Linked DNA regions of Homo sapiens: all the other regions are linked to region 1. Evidence: fine-mapped expression QTL. A gene starts in region 1. Each other region holds a variant in brackets. All regions are shown on one strand. Distances are between the middles of the regions. Region 1 holds the start of CCR1 (C-C motif chemokine receptor 1). Region 2 has its middle 40 kb from the start of CCR3. Region 3 has its middle 57 kb from the start of XCR1. Region 4 overlaps LOC105377067 (a long non-coding RNA gene). Region 5 has its middle 9.6 kb from the start of CCR3. Region 6 has its middle 46 kb from the start of XCR1.

Region 1 (4,000 bases):
GGCCAGGGTCCATGAGCTCTGCAGGTGTTAAAGACAGAGTCATCCACATCCACCACTGGCAGGGTCCCCTGCATCTCTTCCCTGAACATTGGTGCCAAGGCTGGGGTGGAAGGCTGTCTCAGGACAGGGTTTGGCTTAGTGCTGGGCTTCCACTGCAACCTCTCTGGGGCAAAGGAAGCTGCCCACATCTCCCCCTTCTCTCCAAGGAAGAGGAACATTGATGTGGATCAAGGACAATACGGCAACCTTGAGAGAACACTACAGCTTTTAAGGAGAGGAGTCAAAGGGCTTTTAAGAGAAATGAATGGAGCAAGGTCATCCCTCTTTGCTGGTTTCTCTCTTGTCTCTCTGTGCTGCCCCCATTGTACACATCTGCTGTGGTGAGAGGGGTGTGTGCACTAAGGGGTTTGCAAGGCCATAGGAGACCTGAGTGTGGGTGTGGGAGGGGAGACAGAGCAGGCAACTGAGCAGCCTCTTGTTTAGGCCTTGAGCTAAAGAGAGAAAGAAGGCTTCCTAGCTCATAGCTGGTCCAGCCTAACTCTTCTGAAGAAAGATCACATGGGACTCTGAGCCAAAAGCATTGAGAAAATCTAGATCCATGCCCCCCAAATTTAAGCATGCATCAGAATCATGCCAGTCTTTGTCAAAACCTGGATTGCTTGGCCGCATCCCCAGGATTTCTGAGTCAGTATATCTGGCATGTAACCCCAGAACTTGCATGGCTAGCAATGTCCCAGGGAATGTGAATGCTGCTGGTCCAGGGACCTCACTTTGAGAACCACTGCTCTAAAGGACTTCCTCACCCCTTCCCACCCTCGATGCACCCTTCCTTAGCCCAGGGTATTTCCCAGGCCACTACAAAAGCTGTTCCTCATTGTGGTAACTTGGTTAATTGTTTGTGATCCTTCCTAAGCTATAAGCTCTCAAAGAATGGATCCAGCCTCTTTCTTCACCACTATATCCCAAGCACCTAACACAATGTCCGGCACATTGTGAGTACTGAATAAATATTTGTTCAATGAACAAGCAGATTTGCCTGGTACATCCCCTCTGTGGAATGAAACCTAGAGCAGAGCTGGAAGCCTGGTCAAGGATGAGGTACTGACCATGTCCCTTACTTTAGACAGGATCAAGGAAAAGGCAGGCCTCACAAGCCTCTGTTCTCTTTGGAAACTGATCCACCAGCAAAGTACTGCAAATAGCCAGGCACATGCAGACCCCCATTTATTTCTTTGGGGTGAAGCTGAGTGATGATCAGATGTCAAGCTTAGGCCATCTTGTCTGAATTCTTCATTTTACAGATAAGAAAACTGAACCATGAAGAGACAAGTGATCTTTTCAAAGCACATTCACACTGATGATTTCTGAAACAGTGCTTTGTAGCAATGCCGTGAGGAAGGTTAGGGGTGTCCCCACTTTATAGAAGACACAAGGGCAGAGGCAGAGTAGGTGTTGGCAGTTGTGAGGAGAGTCACAGTACTCATCATTTGTCAGACATTTTTCACTGTGCCAGGCACTCTGACATTTTTCATGTACAAGTTGACTTCGTGCTTCTCCTCTGAGGTAAGCATTCAATACTCCCATTTAGCAGAGTAGGAACCAAGACTTAGAAAGGTGAGTGATCTGCCCATGTCACAGGTGGAGAGCTGGGATTTGAACTTGGCCCATGTTTGACCATCACGTAAAACAGGAATGGGGCATCAGAAAGGGAAGGTCAAAATGTAACCAACAGACCTATATTCCCTTCATGCTGGAGGTTCCTGGGGCAAAGCCACTCTCTGAGGTTTGGTGGGGAGGGACTTGGGGAGCAGAGAGCAGAGGGACAATGAGCTCCCAGAAGCCGAGGGGCATAGGGTGCCAAAGAGAAGCTGCTGCCTCTGTGAGCACCCATGTCAGTTAGTTTTGAGGAACAGGACTCAGGGTTCCAGTTTAAATCCTTCCATTCACAATCTTTAAGAAGAAGAAAAAAAAGAAGTCTGCCGCTGACCACAAGAGCTCTATGCCCTGCCCCCATCCCACATACACACATCCCACACTTCAATTGCTCCAAACATTCTGGGAACATCTCACTGCCACCCACCTCACCCAACTCAGCTTCACCTGCCCCCAATTCCCTTAAGGCTGAGCTCCCAGGGCCAAGACTCAAGAGGCTCAGAGTGAGCAGAGAAAATCCTCGCAGTTAACTTGGCTTCCAGGAAGTGGCCACTGGTGGGCGTTGTGGCCATTCATGAGCACCAAACCACACAAAAAGAAGAACTTTGTCCCTTTCTTGTCATTTTGAAAGACTGTGAAACTGGAGCCAATTCTCCATCATCACACAGGAAGCTGAGTACTTCCTACTTGGTCAGGATCTTGAAACTTGAATTCATAAAAACCCAGAAAGCCCCAGAAACAAAGACTTCACGGACAAAGTCCCTTGGAACCAGAGTAAGTGTCACTTGTCTTTTCTGTCTTATCTGTTACTGTGGAGGGCAGTGTTGTTCAAAGACATGCATGCAGCTAGGGGCTCCTCAAAGGTAGGGGGAATTCTTTGAGTAGGCTGGGCAAATGTCTAAGTAGCCCATGGATGCATCTCCAAGGCAATTAATACTGTAGCAATACTGAGAATGGTGGATTTATAAAGCTGGGTGCTCAGATGAAATATAGGCTTTTTTGCTAAAAAGGAAGCTTACTTGAAGGATTGGCTTTTGGTTACTGATTAAGAAAGTCAGTCAGTACTAAGGGACAAAAGGTGTTTTCTGTGGAAACCTATTCAATAAGAAATTACTTGGCGGGGCGCAGTGGCTCACGGCTGTAATCCCAGCACTTTGGGAGACCGAGGCAGGTGGATCATGAGGTCAAGAGATGGAGACAATCCTGGCCATATGGTGAAACCCTGTCTCTACTAAAAATAAAAATTAGCCGGGCATGGTGGCGCATGCCTGTAGTCCCAGCTACTCAAGAGGCTGAGGCAGGAGAATCACTCGAATCCGGGAGGTGGAGGTTGCAGTGAGCTGAGATTGCACCACTACACTCCAGCCTGGCGACAGAGCAAGAGTCTGTCTGAAAAAAAAAAAAAAATTGCTTGCCAAATTCCCCCATGTAAAGGAAAACCAAACATGGTGTATGAAGAAATTATAGCAAGAGGGAAATATTAGCTAGAAAAATCTTGGCAGATGCAAGGATGATTTGATACTGAACCTATCTCTTAAGAAGACTAGAACCAAGGATCCTCAAAATTGGCACTGCTATCTTTGGAAGAGGTAGGCTTTCACTCACCCAAAGGCAAGGAGCTGGCCAGGTGATCTTGGGGGGCATCTGTTCTGCTCTACTAACAAAGACACAGGTCAGGATTTTGTTCTGAAGATAGAGGGGCATGGTGGCTCCGTATAGGTATCTACTTCATAGGTGGTCTTGGTGGGTCCCAGATTTCAAAGAAGAGATGGAAACTCCCAAAAGTTTGCACAACCTGGCACCAGGCTATGTGCCACTCACTGATCCTTTAGTTCCCGCACCGAGCAGTGGGACAGTGCTGGACTGTTCAGAATGTGGGGCCTGGGCAGTGATGTGCTGGTAAATGTTCAACAACTGACTCTTCTGAAGAAAAGATCCCTGCTTTATAACATTTGTTGATTTTCATGGTATAAATGCCCCCACTGTGGTCAGTTTCAAGCTACCAACATGCTGAATGTGGAGTGGGGAAGAGATGCACGCAATTGGCATTTATAAACCAGTATAAGCCAGCCAGCGCACCATAGGCCTGGGTGTCTTTCACCATCACAGACTGCTCTATCTCTGCTCAGAGACTTCACCAACTCCCAGGCTGGAGGACACTAGCAGTGGAGGGTCCAGGATCCAGGGCTATAGCTGACCACTGTGCAGTGGCCTTGAGGCAGACTTCTGCAGTAGACTACAGCAGGGCTGGCAGATTAGATGACAACATGGTCCTTTGGTTTCTCTTCTCGGGCCCCACCCCAGATCACCTCCCTTTAGGAACAGCATGCCTTGGAGTGGTTGCCTG
Region 2 (4,109 bases), 74 kb before region 1:
TTTTTTCTATGATGGTGACAGTTTTGGCCTTAGCGTGGCCAGGTACTGATTTTTAGCTAACATTGGACCATTCAACATTTCCCAAAATGTGTAGTTGGTTGGCCTCTAGTTTAGTATTGCTCTAATAATCTGATAATATTCTAGCATCTATAATGGGAAGTGTTTTCTCTGTGTTTGGTTACTAAGGAGTGAATGGCCAAGTTTGTGTTTATGTCTTTCAATTGTCAGTGTCTGGTACACAGTAAGGAATTGTGTTTATAGTTTAATCATACTCTTCTATTCTTATTTTATTATATTTTTGCTCTTACTTCTTCACCTAATAACATCAAGTTTTTAAAAGTTATCAAGTTACAGGCCAGTTGAGGTGGCTCATGCCTTGTAGTCCTGCACTTTGGGAGGCCAAAGCAGGTGGATTACATGAGTCCTAGAGTTTGAGACCAGCCTGGGCAACATGGCAAAACCCTGTCTCTATAAAAAAATACAAAAATTAGCCAGACATGGTGGTGTGCGCCTGTAGTCCCAGCTACTTGGGAGTCTGAAGCAGGAGAATTGCTTGAGCCTGGGAGGTTGAGGCTGCAGTGAGCCATGATCATGACACTGCACTCCAGCCTGAGTGACAGAGCGAGACCCCGTCCAAAAAGAAAAAGTTATCAAGATGTAATAGTGCATAGTTAAGAAATTAGAAATAGCATTTCCTGCCCCATCCCCTCCCCACCCCTGCCCACTCCTATGAGGCAACCACTTTCAACTCTGTTGGCTGTTTCTCTGGTGCTGCCCTAAGTGTTAAGTAACATGCTTATATTGATTGCTACTTCATAATGTATCAATTTTAGACAGAATTTATTGATTTCCTGTTCTTGTAGGTGAGGATTTAGCTTACACTTCCTTCCCCTCCCAACATCCTCTCAATATGGTTTTTTGACAGTTTCTGGTTAAATGACTAGTCAGTGTTCATGTTATTATGACCACATAAGTATTATTCACTGTTGAGCTAATGTTTTATATTCTTGGAGTTAATAGTAGTTTCTTTTGATTTTTTCCATCTGCTTACTTTGTAAAAATACTTATCACCAATTTCCAAAATGCTCAAATTTGATCTGTCATGGGCCCAACAATAATTTTTTAAAATATTCGAAACCTACAAATTTCATGTCCTTTCTCAATACCAGTCTGGACAGGCTTCTGTGGAGGTCCTGGAGATTCCTTTGCCACTGTCCTGTGTTGAACTCATTTCTAAGATCCTAGGATCTCCTCTTTCTTGGTTACCTCTTCATTTTGCTAAAGCATATATTTTGTCTCTTCTTGAGAATGGGTAAATGGAAGGTAAATTGCAAAATCCTTCTGTGTCTAAAAATATCTATATTCAAGCCTCAGTGGATCTCATACGTTGGCTCTGTAGAGATTTCTGGGCTGAACATAATATTTTCTCAAAACTGTGATGCTGTTGCCCCACAGTCTTGTATCAGCCAATGTTGTCATTGAGAATCTGATGTCAAGTCCATTTCTATTCCTTTCTGTTACCTGTTTTTCCCCCTCTTAAAAGCTCTCAATATATTTATCCCTGTTGTTCTGAAAGTTCATAATGATGTGCTCGGAAGAGGGTCTGTGTCCATTTATCCTGGTGGGTACTTGGTACCCCCTTCATCTCACAGACCTGTGTACTTCCATTCTGGGAGTTTTTCCTGAATCACAACAGCAACAACAACAACTACTATTACTGCTACTACTGCTATTACTGCTGCTGCTACTACTACTACTGGGTATTCTACTTTGCGATGACACCCGTTTTTGCTATTCTTGAACTCCTTGAGTCAAATTTTGGATACAAGCCTGGACAGGAGCATGGCAGCAGCCCCTTGGAGGGCGAAGAAATGCTACATCCCTTTCAGCAAAAAAATAAGTCCTGGGTTGTTACTGGACTCCAGGGGACTCTGAGAGTTTGACTATGAGACACCAGCTTACCATGACACTCAGGTTGTTTATTATGAACTGACTGCCACCTGACCTACTTTGCCACAGAGAGACCCAATAACACTGCATCATAAAGGGGAAGTGGGATTATATAGGATGTAATCCACACAGGTTCGAAAGGCAGCATGGGCAGGTTATTCATGCCTATCCCATCCCTAGTCCCAACAACTGCCATCCTCTCCCTTCACCTGGACCTGTGGCCTCCCAGGAAGTTGGCTGCGATGATCTGTCTGAGGATGAAAACACTCATGCCTGTCTTATGGATAGAGGACTCTGCACTTTGCTTGCACCAACCTGAGGTAGATTGTGTTAGATTCAGCCCCTCTCAGGGGTAGCCCTAAAGGACAAGTGGAGAAGACACCTCCCAGGTGGCAGAAATCAAGGTGTTTATCATAGTGTCCTCTTTGCTTCGAAGGAGAGATCACCAAGGGTCAGAATCTACACATATTTCTAGAAAGTGTTTATTATATATGGTTAGATGTAAGGGAAGACAGAAGGAATTAAATGGAAAATTGTTATCAAGATTTGGAGGAGTATGTCAATGGATTT[A/C]TTTGAATGAGACCCAAACCTAAAAATGTTCATATCTCATGTGAATTCTCACCAAAATGCCCCCCAGGATGGAAGAAACTTGGAAAATAGCACATGCTGGGTCACCCTTCCTATGGCAGCCAGATGATTTCTCAGAGGCTCATGAACAGCGTAAACAGTGGCACAGGGAAGGAGACCAGGCATGGACTCCACACACTGAGGCTATCTGCTTTCACTGGACCTCACCTCTTGCCTGAAGTTGGAGACTCTGATATTTTCTCCGGCTTTATCTTTCACTCTCTGTCAGCCGTGTGTTTTATCAAGACATTGAAGGTTTTTGTTATTCCCGTTTCCCAGGTCCTCTCAGCACAATATTAACCATGTGGACCAAAGTGATGTCCTGTCAGGTGATGCAGTCACAAGGTCCCTGCAGATTACAGTGAGGCAAATCACCTGAAAGTAGCATCACTCCCAGGCAGGATGGCAGCGTGTACTCTGCTCCTGACAGCTGGAGACAAACTGCTTCTTTGGGTGCCTCTCTGTACCAAAAGGGAGAAAACTGTATTTTCCTGATCTGAAGTTAGCAAACTCCAGTGTGTAGGTGCCTGTGTTTGAAAACTAGTTTTACTGGAACACAGCTGTGCCCATGCACTGACATGTTGTCTGTGGCTGCTTTCTTGCTACAACTTCAGAGTTGAGTAGTTGTGACAGAGACCAGCTGGCTTGAAAGCCTAAAATACTTACTATCTGGCCCTTTAGGAAAAAGCTTGCCAGCCCCTACTCTAGACTGGCATCTACATGCCAAATACCATGACTGTAATGATTTGCCTCAGCAAGGGGACCAAACTTAGAAGACAACACACACAGTGAAAGTCACCATCTGATTTAGTCGTAACATTCCATGGCTATTCCCCAAGACCCATCAATTTATTTTATTTTATTATTTTTTAAATTTTTTTACTGGCAAAACTGGAGCATTAAAAGGAGGTATGACAGGAATCAACATATCTGTGTCTTTCTTATCTGTGATGAGACTAATCTGCTATTTTCTTCATAGGATAGAGCGTTGTTTTTGATTTTCTGCTTTGTATGGGCAGGGGGCCTTCAGTGGCTTCCACTTGGGCCTTCCTCTGTTGTAGCCATTATTTACTGTCTGAAAGCCTAATGGGAATCCCATTCTTTTTTTTTTTTTTTTTTTTTTTGAGATGGAGTCTTGCTCTGTTGCCCAGGCTGGAGTGCAGTGGCGCGACCTTGGCTCACTGCAACCTCTGCCTCCCAGGTTCAAGCGATTCTTCTGCCTCAGCCTCCCGGGTAGCTGGGACTACAGGCCGGCACCATCATGCCTGGATAATTTTTGTATTTTTTTTTTTTTTTTAGTAGTTATGGGGTTTCACCATATTGGCCAGGCTGGTCTCGAACTTCTGACCTCATGATCTGCCCGCCTCGGCCTCCCAAAATGCTGAGATTACAGGCGTGAGCCATTGCGCCCGGCCTACTAAGTATGTTCATTCTAACACTGCACTGGAGACTGGTGAAAATCACAAGGTGGGTTCTGGGCCAAATTCTGCCTACGATGATACAAAGTCACATCAAAACTCTATCACCTAGCA
Region 3 (4,109 bases), 120 kb after region 1:
TGGCCCAGCATCAGTCAGCCGCTAGTCATGGGCAGCTGGGAGGAGTATGAGAAAGCTCCAGAACCTCTAAGCAAGGCAGCACCCATCAGCTATGGTAGTGAGTCCCAAACATGTCTGTCTAAGGGCAACTCTTGGGCTTCAGAAATGCTGATGTCAGATCCCAACCTCAGAGATTGTGATTTCCTTGGCCTGTGGTGGGGCCTGGCTTTGGACATTTTAATATATCCCCAGGTGACTGGAATGTGCAGACGGGCTTGAGCCATCCTCCAGAGAAGAGTGCAGGTATGAGAAGTTAGCAGCCAGGACTCTTAGCACCTAAGGCATGGGTGCACCAGCAGGTAGAGGCATGGGAGAGCATTACAGTAACTGCTATGTCACAAGACATCACACTGCTCAGACTCTGTTGTGCCCAAGAATCTGCTGGGTCAGGGGAGTGTCCTACTAAAATGCAGAGTCTGATTCAGCATGTCTGGGTTGGGCCCAGAACTGCATTTCTAACAAGCTCCCAGATGCTGCTGTCACACCAAGGACTACACCAAGTAAGGAGGCCCTACACCAAGGTTGACCACTGTAGATCTGTAGCTCAAGAGGGAGGTTTGGACTGAATGTATGGGGTTGGGGGTGCCGGCATTATGCATGATTGTTGAGACATGGAAGTGAGTGGGAGTATTGGGGAACAGTGCACAGGCAGATCAGTGAGCCAGGCCAAGGCCAGACTCCTGACCTTGGGAGTGAAAACTGATGGCAGGCTTGCTGCTGGAAGGAGAGTGAACGTGGCCTATTCTTTCAAGAAATTTGCTGTGAAGGGGAGGGGCAGACAGGATGGAGTGCAAACTCAAAGTGTTTAAAATGGAGAAAAAAATACTTGGACCACAATACAGGCTGCAGAACAATTGTCATGATAAGATCGAAAGCATCAGAGGAATTCAAGAGGCTGGTTAGGAATAAAGACTGAAGCCAGCTTTGATGCTCCCTGGCTGCATGACTTTGGCCAAGTTACTTGCCTCCTTGTGCCTCAGTTCCCTAATCTGTATAGATGTAGATCACATTAGTACCTGCCTCTTGTGTTCGCGGTGTGATGAGTTGTGTTTGCGGTGATGGAACCTTTTTTTTTTTTTTTTAATAATATATGTCAAATGCTTAGAGCAGACATAGGCTGCTCCATGTATTAGCTATCATGATTACAGGAACTCCTTAAGAGGGGCAAGGTTTTCTGCAAGTGCTGTCCACCTAAAATGAAGAAGCTGAGCACAAAATGTAATTTTAAAGACTTTACTTGAGCCAATGTGAGGCCAGCTGCCCAGGACACCCTTCCAAGTTGCCTTGGGGAGTACTCCATCCAGCTTTTGTTGCATTCAGGCTTTAAAAAAAAAATCCAACTTTTATTTTAGATTCGGGAGGTACCATATGCACATTTGTTACATGGGTATATTGCAAGATGCTGAGGTTTGGGGTATGACTGATGCCATCGCCCAGGTAGTGAGCATAGTACCCAATAAGATAGTTGTTCAATTCTTACCCCACTCCTTTCTTCCACCCTCTAGTAGCCCCCAGTGTCTACGGTTTCCGTCTTTATGTCTT[T/G]GTGTGCCCAGTGTTTAGCTCTTGCTTATAAGCGTGTACATTCAGTATTTGGTTTTCTTTTCCTGCATTAATTCGCCTAGGATAATGGCCTCCAGCTACATCTGTACAAGTGGATTTTTAAAGACAAAAAGAAAGCAAGGAGTGAGCTGATAAAAAGTTGGCAGGAATTCTCATTGGTTTATAGAAATTACATTGATTAGGGATTGGCTTTACATTGTTGAGCTGGAGGATATGAGTTATGGCGTCCAGTGCATGGCATTTTATAGCTACTTGGCATCAGTTAGTCTAGAGTCCACATAGCAAGTGGCTTCAAGAGGTAATTACTTAGCTCAAGGGAGGCATGAGATGTGATAGCTTTTCATTCCAATGCTTTTCTGGGACTGATAATTTAAAAGGGCTCACATTCCTATGATTAAAAGTTTCCTTTTGCTCTCATTTCCTTCCTTTTGATCACAAATTTTTCTCCTCAAAAGCACTGATGATACAAATCTGAGTGCCAGCTTGTCCCTTGTCACCAGGAAGGCTCATTCCTGGGTAGCCCTGTCCCACATGGGGGAGTGGAGACATCTCAGTGAGGAATTTTAAGAGCACCAAAAAGCTGAATCAGGATGACAATACAGAATGGCAAAAGTGAGTCCACAAAGTATTGACTTACATAGCTGCTGTTGTTTGCTCCATCATCGCCAGTCTCTGGAATACCATGATTTTCATTTTCTCAGAAGAAATAAAACAATGAAAGATATCTAGCATTAATTGGAATAATAGAAATATATAATGCACATAGGATTAGAACCAAAAAGAGAATTTTTATGCCAGAATGAAAAAGGAATCTAGTCTGTTAAGAGTCAACTAAAAACCTCCTGAAGAAAATTAAATCTCAGTTTTTCTTTAGAGACCTGTAGTCAAGCAGCTTCTTCCCTGATTTTTCCTAGGTGAGTTTCTACTTCATGGGAAATACTTATGTATATACAACAAGAGGTATTTGCCACCACATATCCACCTCCTTGCTCAGCTAATATAGAATCTAAAGCAATGTGATTGTCTAGCACAACCTTAGTCAGTAAATCTGTAGCTTTTTGTTGAGCTGTGATGGAGACAGCAGTTTCATCAGCAATGTTTCCTAGGGTTTTAGAAGGATTTTAGATCATGTGTTCATGGGAAGTTACATCCAACAAAGGCAAAAGTATTCTCAAAGAAAAAAAAATGCATGGAGCTATCTTCTTGATGGCCAGCCAGATAATTAGCACATTTTCTCTAAATAGAATCTCCATCTAAGGTAGATCTGCAGTCATGCCTAGAGAAAAGTTTGAGGGAACTAGTCCAGTGCTGAGTTTCTTCAGAGCTGTATATAGAGAGAAGGGTAACGAAATATCCTAAGACATATTGCCCTTCAACATTCCATGCTCTTAGACACTTACAGGACCATGGCTGGTGATTTTCTCCACAGACTATAATAAATCCTGGTGGAGCACAGATAAGTACACTATAATTTAAGAACATCAGTTTTGAGGCATTACTGGATCAATGGGTCAGAAATGTTAAAGCAAGAAGACAGGATCCTGATAGCTGGAGGGGCTGTTTTCTTTGGATTTTCTAACAACATCATGGATTTTAGTACTGTCATTAGTGAGTAACGCAGCAGTGATTTTTGACAAAAGAATTCTGATGAGTTACATTGAAACATAGGACAAACAGGTTAGGATGAGTCAGGCAGACCTGATTAACAGGTTTGCTTTTATGTGGCCCTGAGTTGTGTTACAAGTGCTATCATGAACACTGGTGAAATTTAGGGCAGAATGTACCAGTGGGTCATTGTGGTCAAAAGTAGTTTTTGGTTTAGGGTAGCAAACCCAGCATCTCTTCAGATTTCCAGCAGTGGCAATGGTGTGTGGGATTCTGATCAGAGAATTATCCCTCCATGCTACAGTCAAATTTATCAGGGACGGCAAAAACAGAAACCTAGGCCAGGTGCAGTGGCTAATGCCTGTAATCCCAGCACTTTGAGAGGCCGAGGTGGGAGAATTACTTAAGGCCAGGAGTTTGAGACCAGTGTGGTCAACATAGCAAGACCCTTCTCTACAATTTTTTTTTTAATTAGCTGGGTGTGGTGGTGCACTTCTGTTGCCCCAGCTACTCGGGAAGCTGAGTCGGGAGGATTGCTTGAGCCCAGGAGTTGGAGGCCGCAGTGAGTTATGATCATGTTACTACATTCCAGCATGGGCAACAGAGCAAAACCCCATCTCTAAAAAAAGGAAAAAAAAAAAAAAAAAAAAAAGGAGCCTGATTATAGGCATTTGTTTACATATATCCTAAGAGAATATATGTGTGTGTGTGTGTGTGTGTATGCATGTATATATGCACATATAAATATATATATGATGATTTTACCAAAACAATTTTATCCAAGAGAGGATACTCACAGTATGGAGGCCTAACGCCATAAGTATTCCAGTCAATAGAAAAAGGAGAGCAAATATTTCAGGTGTGGTAGGCATTAGAATCATGAAGAACAAGTTATACAGGCTTGG
Region 4 (4,109 bases), 42 kb after region 1:
CTAAAGAAAAAGGACAGGCCACCTACAAATAGAAGCCCATCAGACTAACAGCAGAACTCTCAGCAGGAACCCTATAAGCCAGAAAAGATTGGGTGCCTATATTCAACATTCTTAAAGCAAAGAAATTATAACCAAGATTTTTTCACATCTGGCCAAAATAGTTTCATAAGCAAAGAAGAAATAAGACTCCTTTCACACAAACAAATGCTAAAGGAATTTGTTACCAGCATACCAGCCTTACCAGAGATCCTGAAAGAAGCACTAAATATGGAAAGAAAAGACCATTACCAGCCACTGCAAAAATACTTAAGTACATGGACCAGTGACTGTAAAGCAACCACACAAAGAAGTCTGCATAGTAACCAGCTAACAACATGATAACAGGATCAAACCACACGTATCAATGATTTACCTTGAATGTTAATGGGCTAAATGCCCCAGTTAAAAGGCACAGAGTGGCAACCTGGATAAGAAGCTAGACCCAATAGTATGCTGTCTTCAAGAGACCCAACTCTTGTGCAATGACACCCATAGTCTCAAAATAAAAGGATGGAGAAAAACCTACCAAGCAAATGGAAAACACAAAAAAGCAGGGGTTGCAATTCTAATTTCAGACAAAGCAGACTTTAAACCAACAAAGAACAAAAAAGACAAAGAAGGGGCCTGGCGCGGTGGCTCACACCTGTAATCCCAGCACTTTGGGAGGCCAAGGTGGGCAGATCACAAGGTCAGGAGCTCGAGACCACCCTGGCTAACACAGTGAAACCCTGTCTCTACTAAAAATACAGAAAAATTAGCTGAGTGTGGTGGCGGGCCCCTGTAGTCCCAGATACTCAGGAGGCTGAGGAAGGAGAATGGCAGGAACCTGGGAGGCAGAGCTTGCAGTGAGCCGAGATCACGCCACCGCACTCCAGCCTGGGTGACAGAGTGAGATCCATCTCAAAACAAAACAAAGACAAAGAAGGGCATTACATAATGGTAAAGGGTTCAATTAAACAAGAAGATCTAACTATCCTAACTCTGTAAGCACCCAACACAGGTGTGCCCAGATTCATAAAGCAATTTCTTAGAGACTTACAAAGAGACTGAGATTTATACACAATAAAATGGGACACTTCAAACCCCACTGACAGTATTAGACAGATTATCAAACCAAAAAATTCACAAAGAGATTCCAGACCTGAACTTAATGCTTGAACAAATGGACCTAATAGACATATACAAAACTCTCCACCAAAGGCAATAGAGTATGCATTCTTTTCATTGCCACATGGTACGTACTCTAAAATTGACCATTCAGTTGGACATAAAACAATCCTCAGCAAACTCAAAAAAAATTTAAATCATACTAACTATACTCTCGAACCACAGCACAATAAAAGTAGAAATTGAGGCCAAGAAAATTGCTCAAAACCATACAATTACATGGAAACTGAACAACTTGCTCCTGAATGACTCTTGGGTAAGTAATAAAATTCAGGCAGAAATCAAGAGGTTATTTTAAACTAATGAAAACAAAGACACAACACACGAGAATCTCTGGGACACAGCTAAGGCATTGTTAAGAGGGAATTTTGTAGCACTAAATGCCCACATCAAAAATCTAGAAAGATCTCAAATAACAACCTAACATCACAACTAGAAGAACTAGAGAACCAAGAGCAAACAAACCCCAAACTAGCAGAAGACAAGAAATAACCAAAATCAGAGGCAAACTGAAAGAGATAGAGACATGAAAAAGCATACAAAAGATTAACAAATCCAGGAATTTGTTCTTGAAAAAATTAATAAGATAGACCACTAGCTAGATTAATAAAGAAGAAAAGAGAGAAGATTCAAATAAACACAATCAGAAATGACAAAGAGGATGTTATCACTGACCTTGCAGAAATACAAATAACCGTAAGAGACTACTATGAACACCTTTATGTACACAAACTAGAAAATCTAAAATAAATAGATAAATTCCTGGACACATGCATCCTCCCAACAGTGAGTCAAGAATAAGTCCCTGAACAGACAAATAACGAGCTTGGAAATTATCAGTAATAAATAGCCTACCAACAAAAAAAGCCAAGGACCAGAAGGATTCACAGCTGAATTCTACCAGATGCACAAAGAAGAGCTGGTACTATTTCTACTGAAATTATTCCAAAAATTTGAAAAGGAGGGATTCCTCCCTAACTCATTCTATGAGGCCAGCATCATCCTGATACCAAAACCTGACATAGACACACATACACAAAAGGAAACTTTAGGC[C/T]AATATCCTTGATGACCCATAGATTCAAAAATCCTCAACAAAATACTAGCAAACAGAATCCAGCAGCACATCAAAAACCTAATCCACAATGATCAAAGTAGGCTTTATCCCTGGGATTCATGGTTGGTTCAACATGTACACATCAATAAATGTGATTCATCACATAACCAAACCAAAGACCAAAACACATGATTATCGCAATCGATGCAGAAAAGGCTTTCAATAAAATTCAACATTGCTTCATGTTAAAAACCCTCAATAAACTAAGCCTTAAAGGAACATACCTCAAAATAATAAGAGCTATCTATGACAAACCCGTAGCCAACATTATACTAAATGGGCAAAAGCTGAAGGCATTCCCCTTGAAAACCAGCAGAAGAAAATGATGCCCACTCTTACCACTCCTATTGAACATAGAATTGGAAGTTCTGGCCAAAGCAATCAGGCAAGAGAAACAAAAGGCATCCAAATAGGAAGAGAGGAAGTCAAACCATCCCTGTTTGCAGATGACATGATTCTATATCTACAAAACCCCAGAATCTCCACCCAAAAGCTCCTTGAGCTGATAAGCAACTTTAGCAAAGTTTGGGGATACAAATCAATGTACAAAAATCAGTAGCATTCCTATACTCTAAGAGCACCCAAACCAAGAGCCAAATCAGGAACATGATCCCATTCACGACTGCCACAAAAAGAATAAAATACTTAGGAATACAGCTAACCAAGAAGGTGAAAGATCTCTACAATGAGAATTACAAAACACGTTCAAAGAAGTCAAAGATGACACAAACAAATGGAAGAACATTCCATGCTCATGGGTAGGAAGAATCAATATTGTTAAAATGGCCATGCTGCCCAAAGCAATTTATAGATTCAATGCCATTCCTATCAAACTACCAATGACATTCCTCACAGAACAGAAAAAACTATTCTAAAATTTATATAAAACCTGAAAAAGAGCCCAAATAACCAAAGCAATCCTAAGCAAAAAGAACAAAGCTGGAGGAATCACATTACCCAACTTCAAACCATACTACAAGGCTACAGTAACCAAAACAGTATGGTACTGGTACAAAAACAGACACATAGACCAATGGAACAGAATAGGCAGCCCAGAAATAGAGCCATACACCTACAACTATCTGATCTTTGACAAAGCTGACAAAAATAAGCGATGGGGAAAAGACTCCCTATTCAATAAATGGGGCAGGGATAACTGGCTAGCAATATACAAAAGATTGGAACTGGTCCCCTTCCTTATACCATATACAAAAATCAACTCAAGATGGATTAAAGACCTAAATGTAAAACCTAAAACTATAAAAACCCTGGAATAAACCAAGAATATATCATTTTGGATACAGAATCTGGCAAAGATTTCATAATGAAAATGCCAAAAGCAATTGCAACAAAAGCAAAAATTTACAAATGGGACCTCATTAAACTAAAGAGTTTCTGCACAGCAAAAGAAACTATCAATAGAGTAAATAGGAAACCTACAGAATGAGAGAAAATATTTGCAAATTATACATCTGACAAAGGTCTAATATCCAGAATCTACAAGGAACTTAAACAAATGTACAAGCAAAAAACAACCCGATTAAGAAGTGGGCAAAGGATATGAACAGATACTTTTCAAAAGAAGACATATATGTGGCCAAAAAGCATGTGAAAAGATGCTCAATATCACTGATAATTAGAGAAATGCAAATCAAATCCACAATGAGATACCATCTCACACCAGTCAGAATGGCTATTTTAAAAGGTCAAATAATAACAGATGCCGGAGAGGTTGTGGAGAAAAAGGAACCTTTATACACTGCTGTGGGAGTGTAAATTAGTTCAACCA
Region 5 (4,109 bases), 24 kb before region 1:
ACTCACTGTAGCCTTAGAATTCCCCAGAAGTGATTTAAACAACCAAAGAGCTTCATTTCTTCATAAAACAAGCTAAATGCTGGTGATGGTGGTGGAAGGAAAGCCATAATAAAGAAATCTTAAAAAGCAGTGGTTCTGGGGCAGAAAACATAAATTTGGGATAAATTATCGACAGGAATATGGAATTCAGCAGTGACTCAGATCTTCATGGGAGTGACTCTACTGTGTGTTCCACATAAAAACAAGGGAAATCAGGGGGTATTTTGTGGGGTGCTCCAGTTAGGGCAATGAGTGCTCATCAATTGCAAGACTAAGCTTTATAGAATGTTAAAACGAGGCTTAATTTATGTGAGGATAAGCACAACCACATAAATTCTTGGTAGAAATATGGCTCCAGATAACATCTGGAGCCCAAGTGGACTCTGAAAGGGTATGTGGTCACTCTGGGAGATCTTGGATCTGATGTTTCACAGATGTCAAGGATCTCCCCTGGGCTTTCTTGGGTATCAAGAGCCCTCAGGCCTTTCAGGTTGAAGCTTCTCATGAACTACCCATTGATTAAACCAATGAATCCATCCCAATACATTTAATGTCTCTTAGGATAAAAGCATGCACTGTTAGAAAACACTCCTGGAGATTCACAGTGCATTAAAGGCCCCTGAGAAGTCCTGTAGTGATGAATCTGTTTGAAACCTTCCTAATCCAGCATTTCTCAAACCTATCTTTAACTTAGAAAAAAAATACTTTTCAAATGACAAGTGTTAACATCTCTCAAGGTCAGGATGCCTCAGGAGCACTCTGAGCAGTGCCGGCCTGATGCATGCACAGGCACTACAAGGGCATACTGCCCCCTGTCCATTGTCTTACCTTGACGGGGTATCCATTGCAGCCCAGGAGGTGGCAGGATGCTCTTGCAACCCTGCTACCTTACCCCTGTGTTGCAGATGGGGAAGCTGAGACTCAATGAGGGACTTGGCAAAAGCCACAGAGAGTGAAGGGCAGAGCTGGCTCTACCCCAGAGCTTGGGCTAGCCACATGGTGCTCTGTTTTCCGGCATGGTACTGCCGTCTGAAGAAGAGTTGCCTGTTGCCCTTCAGCCAAAGGTGAGGATGGCATCAAACCTGAAGGAAACCAGAACACAAAGTGGTTTCCCCAAGGTCCAGAATGGCTCGTTCTGTCCTGGCTTTTCCTACCACGGGAAAGAAATTTTTGATGCTTCTTTTGGGGTTCTTAGCTCACAGGAAAAACAGAGGTGTGTGGGAAAACCCAACCAAACACAAATGTCTTCCAATCTCCCAGATTCTCACTGCCACATTACACTGAAGCAGACACATTTCTGGGGGGCGGGAAAAAAGAGCCAAAACAACAACAACACACGCAGAAGATAGCTTAGGAGTATGGGAACATGGGAGGGGAAAAGCAAAGAACCTCAGAAATAGGAAAGGGTCAGCAATATTTTGCAGGAGAGCATAGGTCAAGCCACAACCTTGAGCATGTGAACGGAAACGATTGCCAGAGCAGCAGGGAGAAGTGCAAAGCTTCCTTTAATGCACCCACCTTCCTTCCCGGGCACCAGGGCCAGAAATGTGGGGCTCCAGCCAGACTTGTGTTTAC[T/C]GTCACTTTTCTAGTGAAGTTAGTGGAAGGACTTTTGTAGCCAGCAGGGCCCCTCTCTAGCACGTTGGCAATCCTGTGTATTTCTGTGTTCCCTCCACTGACAGCACGTCACCCTCCTGTGAAAGCTTTACAAAAAGGACTATGGGCCGGGTGCAGTGGCTCACGCCAGTAATCCCAGCACTTTGGGAGGCTGAGACACGTGGATCACGAGGTCAGGAGTTCGAGACCAGCCTGGCCAACATGGTGAAACCCCGTCTCTACGAAAAATACAAAAATTAGCCAGGCGTGGTGGCGTGTGCCTATAATCCCAGCTACTCGGGAGACTGAGGCAGGAGAATTGCTTGAAATCAGGAAGTAGAGGTTGCAGTGAGCCGAGATTGTGCCACTGCACTCCAGCCTGGGCAACAGAGCAAGACTTCATCTAGAAAAACACAAAAAAGGATTATTCCCCTGATAGATAGCCTATTCTACAAAAGAGACAGGAGTGAGAACGTGGAAGCTGTGCTATTGGGGGAGGTGGTGGGCCACCTGTGATTTCAAGATAACAGGTGAACAAGAGTCTAGCATTGATCTGGGCCTTGATATTTACCATCAGTGCAACATCACATCCAGAATGGCACCAAGGATGGGGCAAACCACCGGTGCAGCCATGAACATGCCCCTCCCACTCCAGAAAGCCTAAGACCCCTCTGCAGGCTCTGAAATCAATGTTGTGCTTCCAATGACTGAGCACACAGGGATACTGAGGCAGGCCCAATCCCTAGAGATGCACTGACATTAGCTTAAGGACCCCCACGTGGCTATGCCAAACCTTCCTCAGGCTGCAGAACAGTCTAGGATGCGTCTACTACCGCTTGGTTCCCCTGCTACCTCACTGGGGTTCTGCCGGCTTTCCCAGCCCTTCCTGCTCCAGCCCACTTTCCCTCCCAGGTGCTTTTCCAACAAAATCTTTCCCTGTGTAAAACCTGCTTGGTGGCTGCTTTTAGAGATCTGGACAGACGTAACCTTCATGTTCAAATTAGCTTCAACATATTCCTTCAGGGCATTCCCGTGAGGGATTGTGTTGTTGCTTGTTCCTCTAACCATTCTGTGTGTTTCATTTTGCTCATTTTCATTTTTTTATAAGAACATCAAAAATCTAGTATCAAACTCAGTAAATAAATATGACGATGAAGAAAAAAATTGAACAATGATTTAGAAATTATGCAGAAAATACATTTTTCTCCCCAGGATATGGAAAATACTTCCTAATTAAATGCAAAAACAATGCACTTCCAATAAACAGGAACAAATTCATATAATGTTACCCAAGTAAAATATGTGAAGTTCTTATTTCCATGGTACCTCACACTGTCACATGGGCCCCTGGAAATGCAAGAGAGACATTGGGGCAGGGAAAGAGATGGGATAGATCAATAGATCTTGTTTCTCCTGAAACAAGATAAGAGGGGTGGATGAATAATGGATCTTTTTTAAAAACCACTTTATTGAAGTATAATATACAAAAAGCTGTGCATATTTAATCTATACAACTTGATGAGTTTGGAGAGAAATATACCCCTGTGAAACCCTCATCATAATCTATACCATAAACACAACTATCACTTCAAAAGTTTCCTCCTGTCCTATTTATCAAGATTATTACTTTAACGTAAGATCTACCCTCTTGGCACATTTTTAAGTATACGATGCAGTGTTGTTAGCTAGAGGCACCATGCTGTTCAGTACATCTCTAGGACTTATTCATCTTCTGTAACTGAAACTTTGTGCTCGTTGACTAATACAGATAGATAGATAATAGATATTGAAGCTAACCGCTCCTTTTCCTACAAGTAACAACCAGAAATATTTCTTATTGTGGGAAGATGTAATCTCTGCTTTGTTCACACCTGAGTAATAAAGTGTTTTGGAGCCTTCTATAAACTGCAGTGGCGATCAGGATTCTCAGAAAGTCATGTAGGGAGGGGTGCACAGCCCATTTCCATATGGAGTGCTGTTTTGCATCTCATCCACAAGATTAATCTGGGCACTTTTAAAACTTGTCAAAATCTGGGCCTGGCACAGTGGCTTATGCCTGTAATCCCAGCACTCTGGGAGGCCAAGGAGGGCAGATCATGAGGTTAAGAGATCGAGACTATCCTGGCCAACATGGTGAAACCCCTTCTCTACTAAAAATACAAAAATTAGCTGGGTGTGATGGTGTGTGCCTGTAATCCCAGCTACTCGGGAGGCTGAGGCAAGAGAATCGTTTGAACCCGGGAGGCAGAGGTTGCAGTGAGCCAAGATCGCGCCACTGCACTCCAGCCTGGACGACAGAGCGAGACACCTTCAAAAACACAAACAAAAAACAAAACAAACAAAAAACGGATCAAAATCTGTTTTGAGCAGCACAAATCCTGAATGAATAAAAACATGTGCCTAGGTCCCTGCCCTGGAAAAGATCAGAGGGCCAGTGTGGAGGGTGGAGGAAAAGTGCCTCGGTCCTTAACACCGAT
Region 6 (4,109 bases), 130 kb after region 1:
ATATTTTCATGTGCTCATTTGCCATTTGAAAAATCCTCTTCCATGAAATGTCTCTTCAAGTCATTTCCTATTTTTTAACTGAATTGGTTGTTTTTTGTTTGTTTGTTTTGTTTTCTTTTTAAATGTTGAATTTTGAGGATTCTATATATATTTTAGACATGAGCTATTTGTCTGATATGTGGTTGGAAAATATTTTCTCCCATTCTGGAGATGGTCTTAACAGGGCCTTTTGCAGGGCAAATGTTTTTCATTTTAATAGTTTATCTATTCTTTCTTTTATGTATTATATTTTTGGTGTTATGTCCAAGAACTCTTCACCAAGATTTAGGTCTCAAAGATTTTCTCTTATGTTTTCTTCTTAAAGTTTTATAGTTTATCCATTACATTTATATCAATGATCCAATTTGAGTTAATTTGTGTATAAGGTCAAAGGTTTAGATTGAGGTTTCTTGGTTTTGATTTTTGTTGTTTTTTTTTTTTTTTTTTTTTTGGTCTATGAGCATCTAGTTGCTCTAGCACTATTTGTTGAAAAGACTATCCTTCCCTCATTGACTTGCTTTGGCACCACTGTCAAAAACCAGTGGGCCATACTTGTGTGGGGCTACTTCTGGGTTTTTTTAACTCTCTTCCATTAATCTTTGTGTCTGTCCCTCTGCCAATATCACATATTACTATAGCTATGAAATAAGTCTTAAAATTGGGTAGAGTGATTCTTCCCATTTCATTCCTTTTCAAAGTGCTAATTATTCTTTAAATATTTGAAATAGTTTCCAGTTAAACTCTCTGGGCCTGGAAATTTTTTTCTTGGGAGATTTTAATTATGAATTCAATGTCCTTAGTAGTTACAGGGCTATTCAAATTATCTGTTTCATAGATGAGTTATAGTAGTCTGTGCTTTTTGAAGAGTGGGTTTATCTCATCTAAGTTGACAAGTTTTATGTGTGTAGAGTTGTTCACAGTACAGTTGATTCTTGAACAACATGGGTTTAAACTGGGAAGGTCCACTTAAATCCAAAATTTCGTCTACCTTTGCCACCCCTGAAACAGTAAGACCAACCCCTCCTCTTCCTCTTCCTCCTTTAGCCTACTCAGTGTGAAGACAATGAGGATGAAAGCCTTTATGATGACCTACTTCCACATAATGAATAGTAAATATATTTTTCTTCCTTATGATTTTTTTTAAAATATAAATTTAAGTGGTACAATTGCATTGTTACATGGATATATTACATAATGATGACGTCTTGGCTTCTAGTGTATCTATCACCCAAATAATGTACATTGTACCCATTAAATAATTTCTCATCCTTCACCCCCCACCACTACCTCCCGTTCTTCTGAGTCTCCAGTGTGTATTACTCCACATTCTATGTCCATGTGTATACATTATTTAGCTCCCACTTATGAAGGAGAACGTGCAGTATTTGACTTTCTGTTTCTGAGTTGTTTTACTTAAGATAATGACCTCTATCACTTGAGCCTTGGGGGTTGAGGCTGCAATGAGTCATGATTGTGCCATTGCACTCTAGCCTGGGCAACAGAAAAGAGACCCTGTCTCAAAAAAAAAAAAAAAAA[AAAAAAAAAG/G]ATGGCCTTCAGTTCCATTCGTGTTGCTGCTTTATGGCTGAATAATAATTCCATTGCATATATATTGTAAATTGTGCTGTGATAAACATGCATGTGCAAGTTATCTCTGATATAACTATTTTCTTTTCCTTTGGGTAGATACCCAGTAGTGGGGTTGCTGGATTCAATGGTAGTTCTACTTTTAGTTCTTTGAGAAATCTCCATATTATTTTCCAAAGAGGTTGTACTAATTTACATTCCCACCAACAATGTATAAGAGTTCCCTTTTCTTCACATCTTCACCAGTATCTGTTGGGTTTTTTTTTTTTAATTGCCATTCTGATTGGTGTAAGATGGTATCATGTTCTGGTTTTCATCTGCATTTCTCTGATGATTTGTAATAATGAGCATTTTTTCATATGCTTTTTGGTCATTTGTATATCTTCTTTTAAAATGTCTATTCATGTCCTTTGCCCACTTTTTAATGGGGTTATTTGTATTTTGTTGTTGTTGAGTTGTTTGAATTCCTTGTAAATTCTGGATATTAGTCCCCTGTCAGATGCATAAGTCGCAAATATTTTCTCCCATTCTGCAGGCTCTCTGTCCACTCTGTTGTTTATTTCTGTTGTTTTTGTTTTTTGTTTTTTGTTTAAGAATCTCACTCTGTCTCTCAGGATGAAGTACAGTGGCATGATCTCAGCTCACTGCAACCTCCGGCTCTCAGGCTTCAAGCAATTCTCATGCCTCAGCCTCCCAAGTAGCTGGGATTACAGGTGTGTGCCACCATGCCCAGCTAATATTTTAGTAGAGATGGGATTTTGCCATGTTGGCCAAGCTGGTCTGGAACTCCAGGCCTCAAGTGATCTGCCCGCCTCAGCCTCCCAAAGTGTTGGGATTATAGATGTGAACCACTGCACCCAGCATCTGTTATTTATTTCTTTTGGTGTGCAGAAGAGTTTAACTAAGTCCCACTTGTCTATTTTTGTCTTTGTCATATGTACTTTTGAGATATTAGTCATTAATTCTTTGCCTATACCAATGTCTCGTTTTTCCTAGGTTTTCTTCTAGTATTTTTATAGTTTTGAGTCTTATATTTAAGTCTTGAATCTATCTTGAGTTGATTTTTTTATGTGGTGAGAGATATGGTTCCAATTTCATTCTTCTGCATATCGCAATTCAATTTTTCCAGCACCATTTATTGAACAGGGTATCTTTTCCCCAGTGTGTGTTTTTGTCAGCTCTGTCAAAGATCAATTGTCTCTAAATATGTGGTTTTATTTCTGGGTTCTCTATTCTGTCATACTGATCTATATGTCTACCTTTATACTAGTACCATGCTGTTTTGGTTACTATAGCCTTGTAGTATAATTTGAACTCAGATAATGTGATGCCTCCAGCTTTGTTCATTTTGCTTAGGAATACTTTAGCTATTCAGGCTCTTTTTTGGTTGCATACAAATTTTAGAATTTGTTTCTAATTCCAATAAATTATCAACATCATTTTTCTAATGATAGGAATTGCATTGAATCTGTAGATTTCTGTGGGCAGTATGGTCATTTTGACAATATTAATTCTTCTGATCCATGAACATGAGATATTTGTCCTTTTATTTGGGTCATCTATAATTTCTTTCATCAGTGTTTTGCTGCTTTTCTTGTAGAGCTCTTTCACCTCCTTGGTTAAATTTATTTCCAGGATTTTTTGTTTTGTTTTTATTTGTTTTATTTTCACTGAGACAAGGTCCCTCTCAGCCACCCAAGCTGGAGTACATTGGTACGATGTCTGCCTCCCAGACTCAAGCAATCTTCCCACCTCAGCCTCCCAAGTAACTGGGACTCTAGGTGTGCACCACCATGCCCAGCTAATTTTTTGTATTTTTTGTAGAAACAGGATTTCACCATGTTGCCCAGGCTGGTCTCGAACTGCTGGGCTCAAGCGATCTGCCCACCTCAGCCTCCCAAGATGCTGGGATTACAGGCATGAGCCACCATACCCAGCCTAAGGTGGTTTGTTGTTGTTGTTGTTTTAATTTTAGTTATTGTAAATGGGATTGCTGTCTTGATTTGGTTCTCAGCTTGATCATTATTGGTTTATAGAAATGCTACTGATTTTTGTCTGTTGATTTTGTATCCTGAAACTTTACTGAATTCATTTATTAAATCTAAAGGATTTAGTATTTTCTAGATATAAGATCATAACCTCAGCAAGCAGAAATAATTTTACTACCTCTTTTCCAATGTGGATTTTTAAAATTTGTTTCTCTTGCCTCATTCCTCTGGCTAGGACTTCCAGTATTATGTTAAATAGGAGTGGTAAATGTGGACATTCTTGACTTGTTCCAGTTCTTGGAGGGAATGCTTTCAACTTTCCACCGTTCAGTATGAGGTTGGCTATGGGTTTGTCATATATGGGGCTTTATTATTTTATGGTATGTTCCTTCTGTGCCTAGTTTGTTGAGTGTTTTTATCATGAGGTGATGCTGAATTTTATCAGATGGTTTTTCTATATCTATTGAGATGATCATATGGCTTATGTCCTTAGTTCTG

The links. PIP is the estimated chance that this variant, and not a neighbour inherited with it, causes the effect.
Region 2: its variant is the best candidate, but not a certain one, in a credible set for the expression of CCR1 in whole blood (TOPMed, PIP 0.64).
Region 3: its variant is the best candidate, but not a certain one, in a credible set for the expression of CCR1 in whole blood (TOPMed, PIP 0.82).
Region 4: its variant is the best candidate, but not a certain one, in a credible set for the expression of CCR1 in whole blood (INTERVAL, PIP 0.78).
Region 5: its variant is the best candidate, but not a certain one, in a credible set for the expression of CCR1 in whole blood (INTERVAL, PIP 0.90).
Region 6: its variant is the best candidate, but not a certain one, in a credible set for the expression of CCR1 in whole blood (INTERVAL, PIP 0.75).

The regions. Positions count from the first base shown.
Region 1 is chr3:46,206,709-46,210,708 of GRCh38, reverse strand. CCR1 (C-C motif chemokine receptor 1) reads left to right here and starts at 2,396. Exons shown (of 2, transcript NM_001295.3): 1 at 2,396-2,427. It also overlaps a transcript of CCR3 not described here.
Region 2 is chr3:46,280,860-46,284,968 of GRCh38, reverse strand. No RefSeq gene overlaps it. Among named protein-coding and RNA genes, the nearest start is that of CCR3, 40 kb to the right of the region's middle. The variant A/C (reference allele first, on the strand shown) is at 2,521.
Region 3 is chr3:46,082,224-46,086,332 of GRCh38, reverse strand. It overlaps a transcript of XCR1 not described here. Among named protein-coding and RNA genes, the nearest start is that of XCR1, 57 kb to the right of the region's middle. The variant T/G (reference allele first, on the strand shown) is at 1,582.
Region 4 is chr3:46,164,970-46,169,078 of GRCh38, reverse strand. The region is part of intron 1 of LOC105377067 (a long non-coding RNA gene); the gene reads right to left. Among named protein-coding and RNA genes, the nearest start is that of CCR1, 41 kb to the left of the region's middle. The variant C/T (reference allele first, on the strand shown) is at 2,261.
Region 5 is chr3:46,230,780-46,234,888 of GRCh38, reverse strand. It overlaps a transcript of CCR3 not described here. Among named protein-coding and RNA genes, the nearest start is that of CCR3, 9.6 kb to the left of the region's middle. The variant T/C (reference allele first, on the strand shown) is at 1,615.
Region 6 is chr3:46,071,690-46,075,798 of GRCh38, reverse strand. It overlaps a transcript of XCR1 not described here. Among named protein-coding and RNA genes, the nearest start is that of XCR1, 46 kb to the right of the region's middle. The variant AAAAAAAAAG/G (reference allele first, on the strand shown) is at 1,576.